Homo sapiens: one gene and its partner. The protein of the gene in region 1 interacts with the protein of each later gene in a pairwise test. Each region holds a gene or a part of one and is shown in the gene's direction. Other genes may lie near its edges.

The links.
Region 2: the proteins of RNF8 (region 1) and PSMB1 interact in binary tests that used the Homo sapiens proteins (3 or more experiments, as listed by UniProt).

What each region holds. Positions count from the first base shown.
Region 1 is NC_000006.12:37,367,483-37,370,982, forward strand, and holds part of RNF8 (E3 ubiquitin-protein ligase RNF8), read left to right. Parts: intron 1-895; exon of another isoform or gene 896-1,001; coding exon 1,002-1,736; intron 1,737-3,500. UniProt on the Homo sapiens protein: E3 ubiquitin-protein ligase that plays a key role in DNA damage signaling via 2 distinct roles: by mediating the 'Lys-63'-linked ubiquitination of histones H2A and H2AX and promoting the recruitment of DNA repair proteins at double-strand breaks (DSBs) sites, and by catalyzing 'Lys-48'-linked ubiquitination to remove target proteins from DNA damage sites.
Region 2 is NC_000006.12:170,536,308-170,539,807, reverse strand, and holds part of PSMB1 (proteasome subunit beta type-1), read left to right. Parts: intron 1-2,467; coding exon 2,468-2,574; intron 2,575-3,500. UniProt on the Homo sapiens protein: Non-catalytic component of the 20S core proteasome complex involved in the proteolytic degradation of most intracellular proteins. This complex plays numerous essential roles within the cell by associating with different regulatory particles.

The sequences.
Region 1 (3,500 bases):
ATCCTCTGCCGCCTGGGTTCTAGTAATTCTCATGCCTTGGCCTCCCAAGTAGCTGGGATTACAGGCACCCACCACCACACCTGGCTAATTTTTGTATTTTTAGTAGAGAGGTGGTCTCACTGTGTTGGCCAGGGTGGTCTTGAACTCCTGGCCTCAAGTGATCCGCACACCTCGGCCTCTCAAAGTGCTGAGATTACAGATGTAAGCTGCCACTCCCAGACAGTAAATATTTATTAAGCATTTATTCTATGTGAGTCATTGTGCTAAGTGATTTACATGCATTATCTTATTCATTCCTCACTGGAACAGTGTGAGGTAGGTACTGTACCATCCCTGTTCTGCAGACAAAACTGAGGCATGGAGAGGTTAAGTAAATTGCCAAATGCTATGCAGACTATGAACCCACATCTGAGTCCAGAGCTCCAGCTCTTAACCGCTATCCTGTATTGCCCATATACCCCTGTTGATATTAATTGGGTCAGATCCTACCTGCCATTTGACCCCAGTACCAGATATAGTACTCTCTTTTTTTTGGTTTATGTGTGCTTGCTTGCTTACCAGTGCGTTAAGGAACCACATCCAGAGATAGCATTTGAAACTACTTCATGGACCTCACCCTTAGCTACTGCTTTCTTCACTAATAGCATTTTTTCTAGTTTTGGGACATTGCTCCAGTTTAGGTTAATAGGAGCTATCCAATTTCAGTTTCCTTTAATGCTATTCCATGTGTTTGAGTAAATTATCCACCAATAATAAGGTGATTCCTGCCTGTTATATGGCAGTTCTCTGTGGAGGCATGAATGTGAAATATAGGTAAAAAGCCAAAGCACTGCTTGACGAATGCTGTTTCTAAGGATGGTCGTTTATGAATCTTTCTTTTCTATTTGTTATCAAGAGTTTTCCTTCTGAAAAGGCAGAAGATTTTACAGCAGCAGGAGAGAGATTCCTTTAAGAAGACGAAAATCATGAAGCTTATTTCTTCTTTCTTTCACTTTCCCCAGAGTCTAAATGGTGTTTGGCTGAACAGAGCGCGTCTGGAACCTTTAAGGGTCTATTCCATTCATCAGGGAGACTACATCCAACTTGGAGTGCCTCTGGAAAATAAGGAGAATGCGGAGTATGAATATGAAGTTACTGAAGAAGACTGGGAGACAATATATCCTTGTCTTTCCCCAAAGAATGACCAAATGATAGAAAAAAATAAGGAATTGAGAACTAAAAGGAAATTCAGTTTGGATGAATTAGCAGGTCCTGGAGCTGAAGGCCCCTCAAATTTGAAATCCAAAATAAATAAAGTGTCTTGTGAATCTGGTCAGCCAGTGAAATCACAGGGGAAAGGTGAAGTGGCCAGTACACCCTCTGACAATTTGGATCCTAAGTTGACTGCCCTTGAGCCAAGTAAGACCACAGGGGCTCCCATTTACCCTGGCTTCCCCAAAGTCACAGAGGTTCATCATGAGCAGAAAGCCTCAAACTCTTCAGCATCTCAGAGAAGCTTACAGATGTTTAAGGTGACCATGTCCAGGATTCTGAGGCTCAAAATACAGATGCAGGAAAAACATGAAGCCGTTATGAATGTGAAAAAGCAGACCCAAAAGGGGAACTCAAAGAAAGTTGTGCAAATGGAGCAGGAACTTCAGGACTTACAGTCCCAGCTGTGTGCAGAGCAGGCTCAGCAGCAGGCAAGAGTGGAGCAACTAGAGAAGACTTTCCAGGAAGAGGAACAGCATCTTCAGGTACCACACAGAAGGGAAGGGCAAGAGTGGTCTTCAGGGGTGGGGCAGGCACTTCATGAGTCTCTGGCCAGAGTTCTCAGTTTCTGGGCCAGGTACCAAATTCTGAGCACCAAAGACAGGAAATGGAATGGGAACAGTAAACTTTTGAGATAAGGGAAGGGGATTGAGTAGAGGGTTAAGGCTTCAGCATGCTGATGAGATCAGGAGCCAGAGTTAGAGTGCCAAGATAGGGTAAAGTGACCAGCAGAGCCAGCCAGGGCATAACTCATCCCAGGAGGCAAAGCTGAGGCAACTCAGAACCAACATGAATTCAGGGGGAAGTTAGGTGAAGGTCAACATGCCACAAAACCACAGTATAGTCCAATTGAATCAATAGTTGTCTTCAAGACTTGTGTATCTTTGCTCTGTGGCCAAGGCCAAATCACTTAGTCTCAGGGCAGGTACAGGTCAGCTGGTTCCTCTGCCCTGGTACCTGACAGTTTGTTAGCTATAAAGGTTAGTTAACTCTGTAGCTAAGCCAGGAGGTGAGGGGCTAAAAAGGCAGAAAATGTTTTTGTTTCTATTTTGAGCAGCCAGCATGTGATGGGACAGATGCACCATGACTGCATTGTTGGGTTGAATGATAAACCACCTTCCACAGTGCCTATAGTAGGAAGGTAAAATAATGACTGTCTTAGCTGTATAAAGGTAAGACCAAATGTATTTCCATCCCTCAGTCATTTGCTTAGATGACAAGCTCTTGCACAAAGCTTTAGGCTAGAGCAGATCCTGTCCCTGCTCAAAATGTCATTTCCTATCTGGCAGGAACCACATATTTTGCTCCCACCCAGTTGCTCAGATAATATTGAATGTCAAGAATTCCCCATTGTTGACTTAGAACTCAGACGGACCAGTCACAACTAAAGTGAATAAGCTTTTTGTTTGGGTTGCTCAGGGTAAGGAACAGCCAGGGGTAGTGTTGGCTTATTTCTGAGCAATTTATAAATTTCATTCTGATCTCTGCCATCCCCTTGAACTGACAGTATTAGCAAAGGCCATGGATTAAATAGGTCTTTTGAGAGTATACACTGCTTACTTATGTGTACCTTTTTGCTTCCCTTATCCAGCCTAGACTAGTTCTTGAAATTAATAGAGGGTGGTTTATGTCTACGTGTTTAGTATATCACACCTTCACCAGGACAGAACTCTCTGTAAAGGCTAATATGTTCAGGAACAAGTTACTGTTGCTTAATATTTGTGGCTGCTCTGGACATGCCTCAAGGTATAGCTGCAAAATCTTTTTCTGTACCAAAATGTTAAAGGCGAAAGGATTGGTTTAGAGAATTTCTCTGGGTATGAGTTGGTTGTGTATATGATGCTCATAGTGAAGTGTATCTAGTCCCTTGTTTATCAGCTGCATCTCCCTCTGCCCACCAAGCCCTGAGGATTTATCCTATCCCCTACTGCTGGTTTAGAAGCTCATTAAACCCTTGCTCCTTCACACTTTTTTTTTTTTTTTAAGTACTCAAATTGCCTGGTACTAGGGAATTCTAGTGGTTATAAAGATGCTTACCAAATGGTTTTTGCCATTAAGGAATTTATCTTGTTGAGGAGGCAAGATGTTTCCTGCACACGATATAATCAGAGAATAGTTTTCAGTCAATATAGTAAATTAGAGAACAATTTCAAGTTGGCATATTAAATGGGTAGGTAATTCTTAAGGACAGAAGGGCCCAGAAGTTCTTTTGGAAGGTGCTGGACATATAGGTTAATGATCACCTGGAA
Region 2 (3,500 bases), about 130 Mb from region 1:
ATAAACACTATGATGAACATCCTTGTACATACATTTTTGTGTACTTCCCCAATTATGCTTGTCTTGCTAGAATAAACTTCGAGTAGTTGAAGTATTGGGTCAGATAAATTTTTTTTTGTATTTTGTTGAGTATACTCTTTCTGAAGGATACGCCAGTACCCTGAGTACCCGATTTTATATAACCTTCCCAGTATTAGAATTAACACATTTTGAAACATCTTTTTGCCTATTGAACAGTTTATTATTTTCATTTATATATATTCTTGGGCATGTTTTCATATGTTTATTGACTTTATAAATTTCCTCTTTGGAGACTGATTCATATATTAACTGTTGCCCATTTCCTTATTTGCAGGTTAGTTTTCTTCTTACTGATTTTCAAGAACTACATTCGACTGTGTCAAATGTCTGTGATATTATAGATACTCCCAAGAGTGTTATTTGTCTCTTTTGGGTGGTGCCTTTTGCTACACAGAAATTGCTGTGTTTCATACAGTCTAATCTGTCAATCATTTCTTTATGACATTCAGTTTCTTGCCTTGTTAGAAAAACTTCTCCCATCCAAAGCTTAGCTGTATTTCTTTTAAGACTTGTCTGATTTTATTTTTTACATTGAAATGATTGTGCTTTTTGGATTTTACTTTGATGAGGAAAAGCACTTTGTAATCAAGATTCATGCCATTCTACATTTATTTTTGTTTTTATTTATTGATTTTTGCTGTTTTATACTGATTTTACTAGTGTCTCTCTTGCTTCTTCTAGGGGGTCTTTAAAGCTGTGTTCTTGGACATAGCCCACCCTTTCTTTGGTTTATTTTTTTAAATTTGTTGTGTGTGGTTTTCTGAGATTGGTTCCATCCTTGGGTAAAGCTTTTGGGCCTCAGTTTACTTGTGGCCTGTCATCCTCATGAGAGATACAATCATTTTTCTGCCTTTACACCTTACATCTCTTTCTTTTTTTGTATATTGAGGTTAGTGGATTGCCTGCTGTGATCTCATGTCTTGTCCCAAGCTTGCTTCCAGCAAAAATACTTCCCAGTTTCTTAGGTGACCTCAGATGGTGCCTTCTCCACCAGAGAATTCAGTTTACACAATCCTTTTTCTTTTTTTGAGACCAAGTCTCGCTCTGTTGCCCAGGCTGGAGTGCAGTGGCATGATCTCGGCTCACCACAACCTCCGCCTCCTGGGTTCAAGCGATTCTCCTGCCTCAGCCTCCCAAGTAGTTGGGAATAGAGGCACGTGCCACCATGCTCAGCTAATTTTTGTATTTTTAGTAGAGATGGGGTTTCACTGTGTTGGCCAGGCTGATCTCGAACTCCTGACCTCGTGATCGGCCCACCTCAGCCTCCCAGAGTGCTGGGATTACAGGCGTGAGCCACCGCGCCTGGCCAAGTTTACGCAGTTCTATAGTAGAAAACATACAAAGCTAACAGTGGCAGTTGTACATGGTTAGTAAGGAGATTGTCCCTATATCACATCTCCCAGGGTACTGAGTTCTGGTATATAATGTGTTTTCTAAATCAGTTATGTTTTTAAAAAATCATACCTTGTAAATGACTCGTGATTTCTCATACCCAGAACACGGTTGTTTTTAACAGGCCTTTTTAACGATTGTAGAATCACCTGTGTTCTTTGTAACAAACTCAAATAAGATAGAAGCACATGAATTAATTCCCTTCTTTTCTTGCCTCTAATTCAGAGCTCAAAGATGACCAGCCACAGTTACTTATCTTTCCAGACTTTTTTGTGCTTGTACAAATAGTTTTCTTATTCTTTTAAACAAAAGCAGTATCGTATTTTACAGGTTACAGAATTCTCTTCGTTTTACTGTGTCTTGCGGATGTGTCCCTTGGACCTGTCTATATACATAAGTCGTGCTTTCCTTCAAGTTCTCCTCTTCGTTAGCTTAGGAGAGCCAAGAAATAAAGACTTTCTTACAAATGACTGTTTGAGTTTGGCTGATGTGTCCTACAGAAACCTCACCATCTCTCTCTGTGTTCTCCCTACTCTCTTACGGGTCCTTACCTACTACCATGGCTTGGATTATTTTTGTGTATTCTCATGGCTTCCAACTGTTTTACATCTGCAGTGGTTAATTCTCTTGTCATCTTTACCTGAAGATCATAAAAATGCCTTTCTCCCTCTTACCCACCCTTTCTGTGTTACTCAATATTGTATTTTAACTCCCAAGCCTACAGTTTACCCTTGAACAACACACCAACACGGGGATTGGGGCTGTCTGCTGGGTGGCACCTGTGCAATGGTGACTGGGTTCTGGCTGTCACATGTGCAACAGTGTGTGTGCTGCAGCTGTCACCAGTGCAACAGTGGCTGTGTTCCAACTGTTCCCTGAAGTTTTAGCCAAGGTGATAGTCCGTTTTGTGTCACGTTTTGACCTGATTTATTTTTGCGATGATTTGGGATTGTGATTGGATACCATCCTTATGAATACTGTTTTCTTCTTTAAGGAAAGGGGGCTGTATACAGCTTTGATCCAGTAGGGTCTTACCAGAGAGACTCCTTCAAGGCTGGAGGCTCAGCAAGTGCCATGCTACAGCCCCTGCTTGACAACCAGGTAATGATACTGTGTCCAGGTAATGATACTATGTCCAACTTGTCATGGTGTTCAGTTGAAGTGCCTTCCTCCAAGTTCTCCTCTTCATTAGCTTAGGAGAGCCAAGATATAAAGACTTTCTTATAAATTACTGTTTGAGTTTGGCAGACGTGTCCTACAGAAACCTCATGGTCTCTCTCTGTGTTCTGCCTACTCTCTTGTGGGTCCTTACCTACTCCCATGGTTTTGATTGTTTTCCTGTATTCTCATGGCTTCCAACTCTTTTATGTCTGTAGTGGCTAATTCTCTTGCTGTCTTTACCTGAAGATCATAAAAATGCCTTTTTCCCTCTTACCCCCCCTTTCTGTGTTACCCAATACTGTACTTGAACTCCCAAGCATACAGTTGAGCCTTGAACAACACGGGGATTGGGGCGCCAGTTCCCCGAGCACTGGAAAATCCACATATAACTTTCGACTCCAAGAAAACTTACAAATAAGCCTACTGTTGACTGGAAGCCTTGCCAATAATGTAAACTGTGGATTATCACGTATTTTACATATGTATTATGTGCTGTATTCTTATGATAAATAAACTACAGGAAAGAGAATGTTATTAAGAAAATTATAGGAAGAGAAAATACATTTACAATACTGTATTTGTTGATACTGTAAGTTTACATCATCTGTTTACAAGGAGAATCATCTGTCTGGAGTGGTGGACAACCACAGCTGCAGACCTCAATCTACAGTACATATCAAGCAATTCAGCTTTTTCTTGTGATGTCATAACTTTCCCTGCTTCTTGGGGAGCAGTTCCAGCATCACTAATAGTGCTTTGTTTGGGCCACTTGTTATTTAAGGTTTATAATAATCGCACTAAACACAATGAAAAACAAAGGAGAACATTGAGAGATCACTTTAACTTTTTATAATCAGTTTATGTGT